Linked DNA regions of Homo sapiens: region 2 is linked to region 1. The links come from fine-mapping of genetic effects on gene expression. A gene starts in region 1. The other region holds a variant in brackets. All regions are shown on one strand. Distances are from middle to middle.

Evidence for each region. PIP is the estimated chance that this variant, and not a neighbour inherited with it, causes the effect. A credible set is the group of variants that fine-mapping cannot tell apart.
Region 2: its variant is the best candidate, but not a certain one, in a credible set for the expression of NTF3 in sun-exposed skin (GTEx, PIP 0.62).

The regions. Positions count from the first base shown.
Region 1 is chr12:5,428,908-5,437,238 of GRCh38, forward strand. It overlaps NTF3 (neurotrophin 3), which reads left to right and starts at 3,201. Exons shown (of 2, transcript NM_001102654.2): 1 at 3,201-3,435. The coding sequence starts at 3,418. RefSeq lists an enhancer at 4,018-4,543.
Region 2 is chr12:5,455,295-5,463,625 of GRCh38, forward strand. All of the region lies in intron 1 of NTF3 (neurotrophin 3), which reads left to right. Among named protein-coding and RNA genes, the nearest start is that of NTF3, 27 kb to the left of the region's middle. The variant C/A (reference allele first, on the strand shown) is at 3,643.

The DNA of each region.
Region 1 (8,331 bases):
GTTTCTGTTCAGTGTTCCAACCACAGAGTGGTGCTATTGCAAAAGATAAGGGTAACCAGAAGGCACGCTCTGGAAATTTGCTTTAGGAGAGAGTTTTAAAGGGGGTTTTCAAAAACAAGATCTGATTCCTGCTCTCAGAAATCACTTCCAGGAGTCAGGGCCTTACTCTCAGATGCAGCAGGGAGAAGAAGAAAGTTCAGCAACCTAAAAATACAGTCGACAGATGGGCAGCCAAAGTCATGGCCACGAAGTCAACTTGGAGAGGAGCACCTACCTAGTGAATCCTAAAAGATCTCATCCTGGATGCTTCCTTAACCAGGCCTATGTACAGGGCACAAGCTCGCAGCCAGCTTACTTTCCAGTCCTGATCTTTGCTTTTGCTATCCATACCAATGGTATTTCTATAGAAAAGAAAAATCTCTATTTAGAAACACGGATTTACTTAGAAGTCACAATATTCTAGTTTAAAAATGGCTCTACATAGTAGAGAATGATCTTTTTATTCTGTCTTCTTAAAAATACACCTTTCTAATTCTTTTTTTCTTCCCACCTTCTTCATTCAGCACCTTGCCACTCCCTTGGAAGCCACAACAGCGAGCTGGGGGGTCAGTCCCTAGTCTTAGAGGGAAGAAATCTTTAGGTCTGAAGTCTAAAGAAAAACAGTAAAGGAAAAGGCAGTTGGCGGTGCTCAAGGTAGACTGTCTGAAAGAGGTCTTCTACTCAGAAAAGGGCTAAGGCTCTCCCTTTGGGAAACCAATCCTTCTGAGAAAAAGTGCATCTTTCACCCTCTGCTCCTGTCTGGGTCTCTCCCTCTTCCTCCCTCCTTCCCTCAGTCCCTCCTCCCCTCTCTCCACAAAGACACAGCACATATTTGGCAAGATTAAGGTGTCACCTCTCATATTACAAGGCCTGTTGATTGCAAGCAAAGACAGACCCACCAGCTTAGGACAAAACCCCTTGGAGTTGGAAATAAGACAAACTCTGGGATCCCCGAAAGTCCCGGCAAAATGACGCGGCCAGCCAGTGCAAGGCATCTGCAGAACAAATCCAAGTCCTAAACGCACTGCTTGCTGCCTTTTCTTCTCCTTCCTTTCTTCTGATTTTTCAAGTTTGTTTGCCCCCCTTCCCCTCCTCCCTCCAGACTGCCAGGGACCTGGGAGCTGCCTGCAGATCAGCCCGCACATGTATTTAACCCCTTCCCTGCTGCAGCAGGAGCCAACCACCTCTTTCCTTGCAATCTTCAGGTTCCCAGAGGACCTGGAGCTTGAGAAAAGAACTCTGCCAGTGGATCTGAAACTGGGGCCTGAATCCCTCCTTTGACCAGGGCGAGAAGCTGGAGGAGGGGGGCAAGTGCGGGAAGTGGGGGAGGGCAGGGAGGCGGGCCAGATGAGAGGGAGAAAAGCAGAACCCGACAGAGCACGCCCAATCCAAACCTTCATGGTGCTGTGTGGCTGGGTGGAGGGAACGACTCGGCAGCCTCTTCTGGCCCTGAGGAAGACGTCGATATTTTGGCACGAGGGGAGCCACTGAAGGACTACCCTACCCTTGCGAGGGACCGCAGGAGGTGACGCCCCTGGGCCTCGGTGGGCGCTTCTGGCGGTTTTCGATGTGGCAACCCCCATCAGCCAGGATAATGATGAGGCAGGTACAATCTATCTAGTACGCAGCCCCCAGACTCCCCCCTCCCTTCCCACCTCCCCATCCAACCCCCCAGCTACTCTCTGCGGCCGGTTGGTCCTGAACTGGTGGGTGCAGTTCCGATGTTTAACCAAATTCTCAAGCAATTTCAAGGTATTTGGATTTTTTGAACCTGGGCCCTAACCGAAACGCGGAACGGCTTGCTTATTAGACACCTCGAACGACAGGGCAGGGAGGAAACGGGATACTCGCTGCCCTTCCCAGTCGCGCGTGAGTCAAAAGGTCCTGGCAGGAGATGATGTGAGGAGCGGCTGAAGTGGCAGGGAGGAAGGGATGAGGGGCTTGGAGCGGAGGTCCACCACGCAAGGACTCGGGAAGCGGGCAAGTGGGCAAAACTCTGCTTCCGGGCTCTCGATTTCTCGTTGATCACTAAGTGGTATTTTTCCCCCTTCTCTCGATGGCAAATGGGCGAAATCAAGATGACTTAACTTGGTAAATTTAGAGAGAACGGCTCGGAGCAAGTGAGGTCTAACGGGCAGCTAAAATTATCTCCAAATAAGAGATTTTGACCCCCTCCCCCTATCCTCTCCTCGAATGTATCCACCGGTGGGGAAGTGAGCGTCATTACTTTCGGGGCGCCACGAACAGGTTTGTTTGTTGCTCGCCTTTCCTGCTTCTCGCGCTGTCCCCGCGTGCAGACTGGTGGGTGCTGGGCGAGTGATTAGCTGCAGGGCCCCATCCTAGTTTGGAAGGAAGGGGTTTAGAAGTTGGAGGATGGGTGAAATGGGAGGCTGCGATCCATCTCCCTCTCCCTTCCACACTCAAGCTCCCGCAAACACGCGCGCGCACACACAGCCCCTCCCTAGTCCCTCGGACCACCCGCCCCCACGCCCCTCTACCTTGACCTCCCTTGACCGCCGACACAGCGTCCTGGGTGCGGGTCCCCGGGAGCGGGGAGTTCGCCGGGGAGCGATTGTCCTTGGGCGTGTTCGTGCTGTGGGGTGGGGGGAGGAGTGGCGGGTGGGCTTGGTAGGGGGTGGGGAGAGATCTGGAGCTGGAAGGGTCTAAGGTTTGGAGGAGGAGTTTACGCCTCAGACCTGATCCTCCTGAGGAAAAAGGCAGGAAAAGGCCCTGATGCCTTGTAAAGAAAATCTTGAAAGAAAAAAGATCAAAAAGAAAAATTTCAAGAAAAAGAACCACTAAGAAAGGCTGAAGACACTAACATGTAACCTGTTACGATACATTTAACGTTTCGTTTTTTCCTGGATCTCTAAAAGGGAACTCAAGGGTGGGGGTTACTGAAGAATACTACAGATTTGGAAGTTTTTGTTGCTGTTGTTGTTTGGTTTGGTTTTGTTTTTCAAGAGGGGCCAGGAGAAATGACCCCTTCCCCGCCACGGGTCCCGAAGTGAGGGCGGGGGGGGGGCTCTGGGGCGCGGGCGCGCGCGGCGCGGCGCGGGCCGGCGGGGGAGGGCGGCGCGGCGCGGAAGGGGTTAAGGCGCTGAGCGCGGAGCCATCTGGCCGGGTTGGCTGGTTATAACCGCGCAGATTCTGTTCACGGGACTCAGAGTTGAAGCTCCTCTCCCTTCCGAACAGCTCCGCGCACCGCCCCGCGACGCAGCCCGGCGCAACTACTTTCTTCTCTCTCCTTTCTTTCTTCCTCTCCTTTTTCCCCTGCTGGGTAGTGGCTGCGGCGGGGTGGGGGAGACTTTGAATGACCGAGCTCGCGTCCACCTTTCTCTTCATGTCGACGTCCCTGGAAACGGCCACACGGATGCCATGGTTACTTTTGCCACGGTAAGGGGAGGCGGCGGGCACCTTGGGTGGGCAGGTTTGGGGATGGGGGTCCACGTGGGGAGGGATTTTCCAGTGGACTGGTGCGGGGGGCCCCAGATCCGCATCCCGCCCCACCCCCATCGCGCCGCGCTCACTCACTTTCCCGGGCTTGTGTCTTCCCCAAAGTTTGCGCTGGGATCTGCTCAGGCCGAAGCGCAACCGCAGCCACCCCGCTACACACACACACACACACACACACACACACACACACACACACACACACACAGACACGGACACCCTTCTCCACCTCCTCCCCTCTTGTCCCTCGGCTGCCCAAGAAGCTTCCCTCAATCTGGGAAAGTGATCAGGTTTAAGGGACCTGGATTGGAAAGGGTGGGGGCAGAAGAGGGGAAATGGGGACGACGAAAGAGCAGGAAAGAGATTCAACAGAATCAACCACCCACCACTCCCAACCGACCCGCCTGCTCCTCCGAGAAAGCTCCTAGCGCATCCTATAACAAAAGGGGGTGGCAGACAGAACTCCGGGCGGGGAGGTGCCGCGGCAGCTCCCCTGCACACGCCCTGCACTCTGCCGGCCGCTGAGCCTGATTCTCAGCTCGCCCCAGCACCACTCTGGCCCGGGCGTGGGCTGGGGGGAGGGGACGCGCAGCTCAGGACCCGGAACCTCGCGTTCCAGTTTTGGGAGTTGGGACTCACTGCCACGCGCCGCGTACCTGCGTTGGAGTTCCCCGAAAGGGTTTTTTCAGAAAAGACCTCGCGCCCCGGGCTCCTCTTGGCCAGCGCCCACCCGGTGGCCACCCCACCCTGGGCCTTTGCGCAGATGTTGGAGCTCCGTACGCAGCCCGCACATCTGGGACCCCTCCGGGGAGCGGCGGGCACCCGGGCCCGGCCATCCCAGGGGATCTCCTTGCGGTATCGTCCAGCCTGTTCTCGGACTTTGAGCGGTGGCGTGGGAGGCCGGGAGACCTGGGCACCCGCGCAGCCAGCCAGGTCGGAGTTTAAAGGTCCCACGACGGACCGAACTGTCCCATTGCCCCAGAGCTTTACTCAGTGGTGGATGCTCCTGATGAAATTTGGGACGCTTGGGAGTTGAAGGTTAGGGACAGGAGGGGCGAGGGCCGAGGGCATGGGATGGGGGAGTAGGATTCTGCTTGTTGCTCTCCGCGGGAGTGGGTGCGCGTCCAGGAGGCGCTGCTTCTTTGCGGGAGTTTGGCTGCTGCGTTCATTCGTCGTCTGCGCTTCAGATGCACGGCACTGAGACCCTTGCGTCCGACGGTGTCGGGGCTGTGGACTAGAAAGGATCCCTTTTGCTGGAATCGAGGCTGGGGTGGGATTGCCGGTGGGGGAAACACCGAAAAGATCGTCTGGCCTCGGCCTCTGGCGGCGGGCGGCAGGTTCTGAGTCCGAATGGAGGTTGCTCCCGGGAGCGCCGGGCTCAGAGCTAGAGAGCTCGGGAGACTGTGCGCCTGTGGACTTGTTTATGTGTGTGAAGAGGCGGGGGCGAGGGCCTGCTGAGAGGGGAGGGGAGCCTGGAAGGGGTGGGTGTTTCTCCTGGAGCCTGATGTTTGTAACTCAGCTGATTATGGAGTGCACTGAGCGACCTGCTTTTTAAATAAAGAGGTGCCCGCTCCTACCCCGCAAAACAGCGAACGAGGAGAACATGGAAGCGCTCTGTCCTAAACGTCAGGATGGGAGAAAGTTGTAACATAGAGGAGACTTTTCCAGAGGTCCTGTTTTCACAACACTCAGAAGTTCTCCAGCGTACTCAGCCTGCCTCCCGCCTGCCCTCAATTCCTTTTTGACATGTCACACAAAGAAAGCTGAAAGGTAGAATGTGGAGGATAAACTCCAACCCCCTCTGCCTTGGGCGCAAACACACAGACTTAGGTATCGTGTTAGGAGGTAAGGGGGTTGGAAAATAATGCAGGCTCCGGTAGACAGTGTTGAAGGGAGATAGAAAGTCTGGGGTATTTCCCCTAGGGAGAGTGTGTGGGATTTTGTGTTGGTGAGGACTGGAGTGTAGCTGGACTTAGAGGGTTTGGTTGTGTGTGAATGGGATATGCTTATCTATGGAGTGAGATTGTGACCATTGAGTGAGTGGTCAGGGAGGGATGGGGATGTTTTTCCAAAGTGTGTGTGTGTGTGTGTGTGTGTGTGTGTGTGTAGGGGAAGGTGGCAAAAGAGCTGGAGTCCTATCCCTCTTTGGTGCCTGGGAGGTGTGTGTTTCTGGGGAGTCTGTCGGATGGGCATCTGTGTGCTTAGCGGGAGACAAGAGCTTGCAGGAACATAGGTGTAGCTAATGCGAAATCTGTGCCTATGAAGGGTGTCAGAGCAGGAGGAGAGGTGCAGCCTGTTGAAGACAGATGGCTTGTGCATGCCTGCACAAACACATGGAGTGGGTGTGGTGTAGGAGGGCGGCTGTGTGTGTGAGGGAAAGGTGGATGCATGTGGAAGGTTGGGCGCCTGAGGATTACCAAAGGGATGTGTGTGGGGGGTGGGGGAAGATTATCTGAGGAGCACGGGGTTTGAACTTCATGAGGGTGCACTGGGAAATTTGGCTGGAATGGCACTGGGGCATGTAGGGGGTAGAAAAGTGTGAGCTCAGATCCTCTTTATGGAAAGACAAAGCATTTGCAGGGAAGGACACCGGGTTGGTGTTGGTGTTTGCCTCCCCCCTCCTTCCTCCCCAGAGAGAAGAGAATTGGAGGAGGCTTAGAATGAGGGATGTACATTTAAGGGGAAAAGTCCTTGTGCATTGGCACTGGGTGGGAACAGGAAGAGATGTGTGCATAAGACTGAAGTAAGTAGAGGAATGCACTATCTGTGCCTGGTGTCAGGGATGCATGTTGTATAATGTTTTGTAATGGGTTTCTTATGTAATAGGAGAATTCACTATCACCAGTTCATATTGATAATCAATTAAAGCTAATGGAGTGCCTACTGGATGCTCAGCCCATTGCTGGGTACTGGGGCATGGCACACTGCCCTGGAAAAATTCCTTCTCCAGGCTCAGTAAAACTGATGCAATTTTGCCAGAAATAGACAGAGCTCGACGCTTGTTGAGGTTTCTTCAAGGTCTATAATTCAGTTTCTAGAGATGTTTATGGATCTTGGGGGCCAAAGGGAAGCTGACTTGAAATATATCTCTGGTTTTGTAAAAAGTGGGGCATAAAGAGAGGGATGATGTAGACTTTTGTGTATTGGGAAGGGAGCTGGACGGTGTTGTTGTTTCTTGTGTGGGGTGTGGGCTGGGAATTGGAGGGTGCTGCACTTCAGGTCAGAATGCAGGTCCAGATCCCTCTAAGGATTGAGTTTCTAAGAGTACACAGAGCCTCCTTCATAGCTGGAATGAGACCTGTTATGTGGAGCTGGAGAATGGTGAAGTCATGATCAAGGAAGAGATGGACTGGGAGTGTTTGTTCATCTTTGATGTTTTCTGGGCTACGAGTGTAAAGCTAACCTGAGTGTGTGTTGGGGGGGTGGGTATGCATGCAGGTGCGTGCACATGCACTTTGGCCTGGAGTAACGTAACTGGGAGAAAACTAGCGAGGTGGATAGGAGGGGTGGATATTCTGGCTCTTGTGAAGGGGGTGCCAGTATGTGTTTTTGCAGGAATTCTGTGTGTCTGGGGAAGGATAAAAATTGTCTTGGATACTCAGATGTGCATCTTTAGCGAAAAAAGGTGTACACAAAAGAAGGGCCGTAGACTTTGGGGAATGAGACAAAGGTGTCGTTGATCGGGTCCATACCCTGAGATGGCTGGTGAGGCAACTGGGTAGGAACAGAGTGAAGGCTGTGCTTTTGTGATGCACACATCTGCCTGTCTGGAGCAGACGATGGGGATCCCCATTTGATTAGGTTCTGACCACCGTTGGGCATATGTTTGGGAGGACTTTATTTGACTCATGACATTTTTGAATTCATGAAGTTACAGCTGTGCCATTTTAAGGGTCTACCTTATTTTTGAGAGGGAAACTCATCTGTGTAAGAGATAGTTTATATAGGGCTTGACTATTGGTCAGAAGATCCGGGGCAGATATTTCTGAGAGCAGGGTGGTGAAGTGCAAGACTGGATTGGGAATGTCTTAGTTCTAGTCCAGTTCTACCACTTGGGAAAAGTGTGACTTTGGGGACATTTTTAATCTCTATAACTCTTCTGTTTCTCTTTTTGTAAAGGGGCAATATAATGACTCAAGGAGAAGGAAAGTTCACTCCTCTTTTCCCCCATCAAAACTTGATGTGTTTAGTTGTATACAGCCATACAAAGATGAAATGTAATTAAATACAGGTGCTAGCACGTATGTAGGTCATTGTGAAAATAGGATCTGGACCCCTTTCTCTTTACAATGCAACTTAATCAGTAATCATGATGCCCACAGCATCTCTACTGCTCACTCATTGTGTAAATAAAACTTTTTATAACTGCCTCAGTTTACTCATCCAGAAGCTGGAGGCAGCCAAACCTAGATTATAGATGATGGAAATCTTTAAGATCTTTGAGCTATTCAGAGGAAAGGTAGTCTAAGAATCAATGTTATTAATGATCAGAGACAGACATTTCTTTATTTTTTAACATCAGCTATGCAGACCACAGCACCAAAAGAAATGTGACGTGGAGAACAGCAAAAATAATAATTGCCCTTGACATAGGCACCATTTGAATAAAAGAAGAGCAAAGTCTAGCCTGCCTGGTAAGAGGAAAGCCTGGGCTTTGGGTCTTTGAAATTCTTTGTGCCCAGTGCAGCAAGTTGGGTACAGCCACTTTCCCCAGAGATGAAGATGGAGTCGTAGAGGGGCATGGAAACACACTGAAACCTCCGATTCCTCCCAGAAGTCAGTACATGCTGTCAACTCCTGGCTCAGAGTCAGGCTCCCATCCTTGAGTTCAGTGGCCAT
Region 2 (8,331 bases), 26 kb after region 1:
TGGCATACATCTGTCTTCGATCGTTGTCAGCTCTGGGAGGCTTATGCCAAGCTTCTTGAGCGTAACCCATGACTGCCTGGGTTAGGTGTTGTGAGCTGTCCAGGAGGCAGGAGGACGATGCATGCAAGTCAGGGCTTAGGGCAGAAGTGCCTGGGCCTGGCCTCCCCTTGGACTCCAGGAGTCCTGTCCTAACAGAGCCCACAGCCCCCTATCCATCTGGCCTCTGTAACCCCTCCCCAACACACACACACACACACACACACACACACACACACACACACACACACACATAGCCCCTGTGATTGAGGGGGCCCCAATTCCTGTTCATATCCTCCAGGATAGCCCACCTGCACCCTCGACAGTGAGAGACAAAGTTCTATTCCCTGTTTAGATGGGTGCTGGGGACAATGGAAAGGAGGTGTGGCTCTGAGAAGTTCATGTCTTGCTCAGGGCACACAGCAGCTGATCGGGAACATGTTGCTGACTCCAAGATGCTGCCTTGCAAGAAGCTGGCTCTATCCTTCTTTTGGCTGAAGTGCCTTTCATGGATGGTGAGGGATGTGCAGGGAGAAGTGTCAGGAGTGAGGGTCAGTGGTTAGAATCAGGCAGTCCACAGAGTCTGAGAAAGCAAGACATTCTCTGGCAGTCTGGGGGTCATGATCGCCCACCCCAGCCCAGATAACCCTCACAGCTGTGCGGGCCACTAGAGAAAAAGGAGGGCATGTTTGGGGCAGGAGAGGCAAATGTTTGCTTATCTGTGACTTCTTCCTCCAAGCATGTCCGGACCTCCAGTCAATGGTGGGCTGTCAGTCGTCAGCTGAGGTTGAGCTTTCCTTAGCAGGAGCACTGGTCACTTGGGCTGGGATGGTTCTTAGTGGTACAGGATGCACTGCAAGCTTTAAATGCGAGTGGCATCATCCCCTTCCGGTCACCATGGCAACCAGAAACACCTTGACACATTTCCAAATGCCCTTTAGTAGGGCAGTGACAGCCCTTTTGAGAATCACATAGAATCGCATTGATTGATGAGTGAAAAATAAATGGATGGTAGCCTCCTTTTGTGATTTTTGCAGCGGCCTTTAGCTTCCTTTACTCACCCCAGAAATCAGTGGGACCCTGGGAGCTGTGTACCCCTCAGACCCAGTTGGAACCCAGCCAAGAGTACTTAATCCATCCCCACTTGTGGGGCCAACGGCACCTAACCACCTCAGGCACGGTGGACCTGGCTCCTCAGAGAGCTCTAGGGACAGAGGAGAGAAAGGGTCTGCATTCTGTTTGCAGCCCTGATCGTGAGCTCTGGGGGTCCTCTTCCACCCCCACCCCCACCCCCAGCCCCTGGAGCAGGTACTCGGGGTCAGAGCTCTGCTGAGGGTCTGGCTCTGGGAGGGGAGGTTTGTGTAAGATTCCCTCCCACGGTTCAGCACAGATGGGATGACAAGGACCAAATTCTGTTTCTGGGCTCTGATATTTGCCAAGATTTTTACCAGGCTTCCTGGAATAGACAGGGAAGCAGAGCAAGCTCCCGTAGGTCAAGTGATTTGGGCCCGAGTTGACCCAGAGTCCCTAAATGACTGCTGTGTAGCTACCATGAGTGTGCTGAGTGGCCCATAGGGGCAGGTATGAGAGAGGTGCTGAGGGAGGCAGGGGGCCCGCAGAACGGCCTCCCATCTCCACTGCCCGTCCCCAGGTCCACAGGCTCACAGAGCAGACACGGTCTGTGCCTGGGTTTGCTCACCCACAAGAGGAAGAACATAACATCTCGCTCCTTTTGCTGCACAGGATAAAACGAGAACAGAGAGGAAACAGGAAGTGCTTTGCATTCCAGAAAGAGCAGCAACTGTATAAAGTCATGCATATTAGGATTTGAGGTATGCATGGTCAGAAGTTAGAAACTAACCGAATCTTGTCATTGCCAGGAAGTTTCGGGGTTCTGTGACTGGTGGCCACTGATGTTCCTGTGTTCCTCCATTCCAGCTCCTACCTTGACTGTGTCCTCCTCTTCACACCTAACTTCTTTAGTGAAGGCTCCATTTCCTCATTTCCTGTTCAATGCTTAAACCCCTTGCAATCTGGCTTCTACCATCGCCTTATCACAGACCCTTCTCTGGCTTTGCCTTGCCTGGCCCTTCCATGATGTCTTCTTTCTTGAAACCCTCTTTCCTTGGTAGGATACCACGGCATCCTGGTTTTTGTCCTACCTCTGTGGCTGTTTCTGCGTGCTTTCCTTAGCTGACTTTTGCTCCTTTATCTGACCTGGGCTCTCCTCTCTCCATACACTCTCCATAGCCTATTCTAAGTGTCCCAGGTCTCTTATATCTTATCTCTCAAATGCACAATTACTTTGTGTTAGCTACAGACCCATATATCCAGCTTCCCTATAGATACCCCAAATGTCTTTGTAGGCTCCTAAACTCAGTGTATGCTAAGCTGAACAGGGGCTCCTTTTGTGCCCCAAACTTTCCCAACTCCAGTGAGTCTTCTCCATTGTCTTTCACCTTAATAAATGGAACCACCTGCGACTCTAGTGTGTGGTCCAGAGACTTGGAAGTCACCTCAGCTTGTCTCTCTGTCATCCGCAGGATCGGGCAGCCTCCAAGTCCTCATCATTCTAACTCTCATAATGCCTCTGGAGTTTGTCCAGATCTCCTCGTCACCACTGCCGCTACGCTAATCAAAACCACCATTGTCTCTTGCCATCCTCCATACTTTGCAAAGTTAATTGGGTCATTTTTCTACTTGAAATCTTATAATGGCTCTCCAGTGCCTCTGAGTCCTTGTTTTTTCAACACTGTTCACACTCTCCCCACCTCTCTCTCACTCATACCCCATGCACCAGCCATCCTGGGTTTTGCTGTTTTTGTTTCCCAGAATGCACAATGCACCTTCTGGCCTCTGAGCCACAGCACCTGGGTATTTGCTCACACTACTGCAGCTCTCCTCTTCCCTGCCACCACGCCTTTCTTGCCTGACTGTTAGTATGCAGCAGTGGCCACTTGAGCATGACCGCCTCTGGGAGGCTGTCCCTAGTCCTCTGTCGCATTCTGGGGCTCCCTATCACACACTCCCATTGCATGCTGCAGCATCCTCAGCACCCAGCATTCCTTATTGTAGTTCCTGATTCAACACCTTTCTCAGGAGACTCTGGACTTCTTGAAGGCAGGAACAATTCCCACTTGTTCCTAGTAGCATTCCAAACCACACGTGACAGTGTCTGGCTTATAATAAGCAGCCAATAAAAAGTTGATGAATGAATGAATAAGTGAAAACAGAAGGTGTTTGCCTGCAGAAATCTGGAATAAGATCAAAGATCAGAGCTGGGATTAAGGAAAAAACTTCCTTGGGGTGGCACTATGAATTCCCAGAACAGGTGACTAACCCTCATTCACTTTGGCAAATGTTTATCCCATGCCACGCAACCAGGCAAAAAGTTGAATGAGGTTTAATCCCTTCCCACACGGAGCTTATTCCTTCTTTGGAAGTCCTTTAAACAAGCTCTGAAATGATTTTGGCAGGTAGACAAACTGGTCCTCATTTCTCTGTGACCAGTAAGTAGGGAAAGCAAGCACACATACACACACACACACACACGTGCACACGCACACTGACAGACAACCTTGCTCACTCACATGGGCATGCCCAAAC[C/A]CTTCTTCTATTTTATAGGATGGTAACTCACTCTTTAGTTTAGACTCTTGACGTGCCATGGAAAATCCCACTCGCCCTAGAACTGGGGGCCGGGCAGGTTTGACTGTAACAACGAAGCCTGGAGCTTACTCTTTGCTGATTGGCTTTCCTTTCTGTCTCCATTTTTCCCCTGGTGAGCACTGCAGTTGTGTTCTTCCTCCCAAAGGTAATGCCTGGTTTGGCTCACTAAAACCTGTTCTTTCTGTACCGAGAGCTCATCTTCTCTTCCTCTTCTGGATTCTCAAATGAGATGACGTCAGAGGATGGAGGCCAACCACACCCTTCCTCCTTGACCCTGATAAAGTTTCTTGGAAACCCTATACTCAGAGGCAGCCAATTCTTGCCAGTGGAAGAGTGAAAAGAGGGCTTGGGAAGCTCAAGGCTCAGTGTCTGTCCCCAGGTCCCCCAGTTAAAGACACATCTGTCCTTCACTCTCAAAGATGTTGCCATTGCTCCCCTGCTAGAGTGACACACTGCACTCCCTCCTTCCCTTCACACCCCAGCAAGAGGCTATTTCCCAGGGGTCTTATAAGCAGATTTCATCTTCTCTTGTGCTGTTTTCTTATTTCAATTATCTTCAGGGAGGAACGTGCATATTGCGTCATTGCCTGGCTGTGAAATTTCATTTCCATTTCTTTACACCTGCAGTTGCAATACGAGAGAGAAAAGGCCAGAGCTTAGCGGATGTCCTAGACGCAGGTTATCAAGGTGCTGTGGCTGTGGTTTCCCGGAAAAGGCCTTGGTCCCAGAGCACATTTTATCAGCAGGACCTTCGAGGGGCTGCGTTCCTTCAATTGTTTTCTCTTTGGGGTCTCTGGTCTCCAGTTCTTTCTTCTCTAGCATGTGAGATCTGTGCTTTTGATTCATGCCTTTAAGTCTGACATTGAAAAAATATCTGATTTGCCATTCCAGATGCTCGTCCTCATTTGCAAATTTTCCTAAAGGGCCAGATTGTCCTCTGGCCTTTTCCCTTTTCCTGGTCCCACCTCACCACCCTCCCACTGGGGCTTCACAGAGGCAGAGCTAGTCTCCTTTCATTTTTTAAAATTAATAGTCTTCAATTTTTAGAACAGTTTTAAGTTCACAGAAAAATTAACCAGCTATTACAGAGTTACCGTATAACTCCTCCCCCTCACTCCCCAGTTTTCTCCATTATTAGCATGTTGCATTAGTGCAGTACATTTGTTGCAGTTAATAAGCAAATATTAGCCCATCATTATTAACTCAAGTCTATAGTTTACATTAAGGTGTATTCTTTGTGTTTTACAGTTTTATGGGTTATGACAAATGCATAATGTTATGTATCCACCATTATAGCATACAGAATAGTTTCACTGCCCTAAAACTCTCCTGTGCTCCACCTGCCCATCCCTCCTCCCTCCTCTGCCACCAATCCCTGGCAGCCACCAGTCTTTTGACTGCCTAGAGTTTCGCCTTTTTCAGAATATCATAGTAGTTGGAATAATACAGTGCGTAGTCTTTTCAGACTGGCTCCTTTCACTTAGCAATATGCATTTTAAGTTTCTTCCATGGAAACTTTGCTTTCATCCTTTTATCACCACAAGGCCAGTCATCCAAGGAATTTCTCCATCTCTGTCTGTTCCTTTCTAGTTCTATGTGTGCCACTGCTTGGCATAGAATAGGTATCCATTTAATGAACATTCCCTTTCACCACCTGGGACACCTTCCCAGGGATAACAAAAATAAAACCAGCTAGGTCAATAGCAGAGCCCCCATCCCAGTTTTAACCTCATTCTCCCCTCTTTCCACAATAAACTGGATCAGAACCAGCAGCTCTGTAAGACTGCATTTCTTTCCCTTAATACCAGGCCCCAGAGAGCATTTGATTCCTTGGCAGAGAGGTGTAGGCTTAATTAATTTTTCTCCTTTTTTCTTTGAACATCTTGGAACACACACACACACATTCGCATTTATGCACAATTGGGTGTATGAGAATTTTAATGGCAGGTGGTGTTAGCAGTTCTTTTCCTCCTGATACAGATCAGGGTTTTTCCATCTGGGCCTTTTAGCAGGGCCTATGAATATTGACTTTCTAACCACTTGGATTTGGGTGGAGTGTGCAGAGTGGGATTGGGGGGGAAGGTTCAAGGGAGAACTATACTTATGTATAAATCACATGTGAAGGGAGTTTTGAAGTCATTATTGCTTCAGGATGTGCGAACCATAATTATTTTTTAAGGTCTTGATTTGCCCAAAGAGCATTTCCCAGGGTTGCTGCTCCAAGCATGACGTCTGTGCTGTCAGGAGGTGCAGCATAGTCTGATTCGAGTTTAATCGCTTTAAAGGAGGCCCTGGGTAGGATCTGGTCTCTAGGTTCTCAGCTGTGGTCAGTCCTCCATGCAGCAAAACATCCAGATGACTTAGATGATTAAGACAGCAGACTTAAAGTGAAGAAGAGATTTTTTCCCTTATTCTTTCCTTTTATTATTAGTTTTTAAATGGTTGGCTACATGGGCTGTTGGTCATTCTCCATGTTCTCTGTGCTCTCCTCAGCTCTCTGCTCAAAACAGGCTGCACCGGCCTGCCTAAACCCTGAAAGCAACTTCTCAGCTGCCTACTTTCTGCCTTTTGACCCCCAAGCCAATCCCCATCTCCTTACCACCCTCCCGCCATGTCCTCATACACCTGCCTCTCCTTGACTTCATTCTTCATGCTCCATCAGCAACAGCCCTCTGTCAATAATGATTGTCCCAGGGAAGTGTATTCAAGGGTCACATAAAATGTGCCCTCTCTATGTGTTGAGAAGGTTTTCTGTCCCCAAAGGAGCTCTCTGGATAATGAGGAAGGTTGAACTGGGGCAGCCTACAGGAAGAAGCCCTTAGAAGGGAAACCTGTGGCATAAACCATGCTGATCCACGACTCTTATTTTGGAATAGCTATTTAAAAAGAAATATGAAGAACTCGTAAGACTTGGAAAAGAAAACTAGAGAATGTTGAAAATGTCCAAGGGTTATGTGTATGATGTGTATGGGGAAATTTTAAAAGAATGTGGTAGAAAACTGAATTTGTGGTAAAATGTTGTCACAGGACGGCCTGTTCTTTCATTGAATTATGTCTTAGTGCAGGGATGACAAATAAATACAGCAACTGTGCTGCCATTCTCACATCTTTTCCTACAGTAGGCATCACTAATCAATTACAACATTCTTTTCCACTGTCATGCCTTTGCCTACAGCAGACATCACTAATCAATCACAGCACTCTCTCTCATTGAGTTTCAAAGGTTTTTTAATCCTCCACATAGGTCTCTAAGTAGCTATATACCAATTACTTTGATTTAGAACTTGGATTACCAATTTGCCATCTCTAGTTTAATGGGAAGAACATTAGGATTAGAGTCAGAATACCTGAATTCAAGTTACTGACCTACTACTTAATAATAATTAATTTTAATAATTCTCTAACCTCAGCTTTCTCCTCTATAATAAGAAATAATGCTTACCACAGAGGCTCGAGGTAAGGATTAAGTAAGATAATATATAACATGTAAGATAATTTGTGTGATGGTTCCTAGAATAGTACCTGGTGCATTGTAAGCACCCAGCAAGTGATAGCCAAGTATGAATTTGCAGCGGCATGGACACATCATGCCACACCCCAGATATGGAACAATAGTTAGGATTCCATTCACCTTTGCTTCTTTTAACATCCTCAGTGAAGGCAGATGGAGAACAGCTGGACCCTCTAATTCTACCTGACTTTAACTTCACATTCTTAAGATGCTTATTAAATCTCTCTTTCCTGAACTAATATAATGCTTCCTTGTTACCCTGGAAGGACAGAGTTAACACCCATGTATTATGACATGATGGATGTTCTTTTTGCGCACACTGCATGCATAGCCATGTGCCAAGGCCAGGCCTGCCTTAGCTTTTTGGTTCTCCAGAGCAGCTTCACTGTGACTGAAGAGAGCCAGGGAAGACATCTTGGTAGAGCTCTTTATATGACTCTTTTCAGAATGTTTCTCACTGATGGAGATGACAGAAAGCTAGGATGATTTGCAGGCAGGAGGACAGGCTTCTTTGGAAAAGGTTTCACCATAGATTACCTCAATCCAGGGTTGGAAGACTGGAAAGTGGTCTGCAGGGCATCCCAGGGGATGCCTTCTTCAAGACAATATTAGACTAGCATTGGACCCTGCCTCCAGACTAGTAAAGGGTTATTTTCAGAGCAGCAACACCAGAGAACATGTTTTGAGCAAATCAAATCCTTAAAATCATGATTTCATACATCCTGAGATACTAGTGACTTCAAAATGCCTTTCTCAAATTATACATATAGTGCCTTCTGAATCAACTGTCTTTTTTCTGTCCAACAGTATAAACATAATCTCTGCCCTCACACAGCTTAGAAACTGTCATGAGAGGTAAACAAATACACAAATGACAAGGTAAAATAGAAGAGCTACAAAAGAGATCATGAAAATATCCAGGGAGTTCGAAGGTGGCAGATAACAAAAGGCTTCGTGGAGGAGGTAGCCTTTGTGGCATTTGAGATCAGTCCTGCAGCAGGGTTATAGGTGGACAGGCAGAGATGGTTGGGGGTGGGCGGTAGGAGGGACAGACAGAAGGAACCACAAGAATGAGGATATGGAGAAAAAGACCACTGAAGGGTGCAAATTATTAAGGA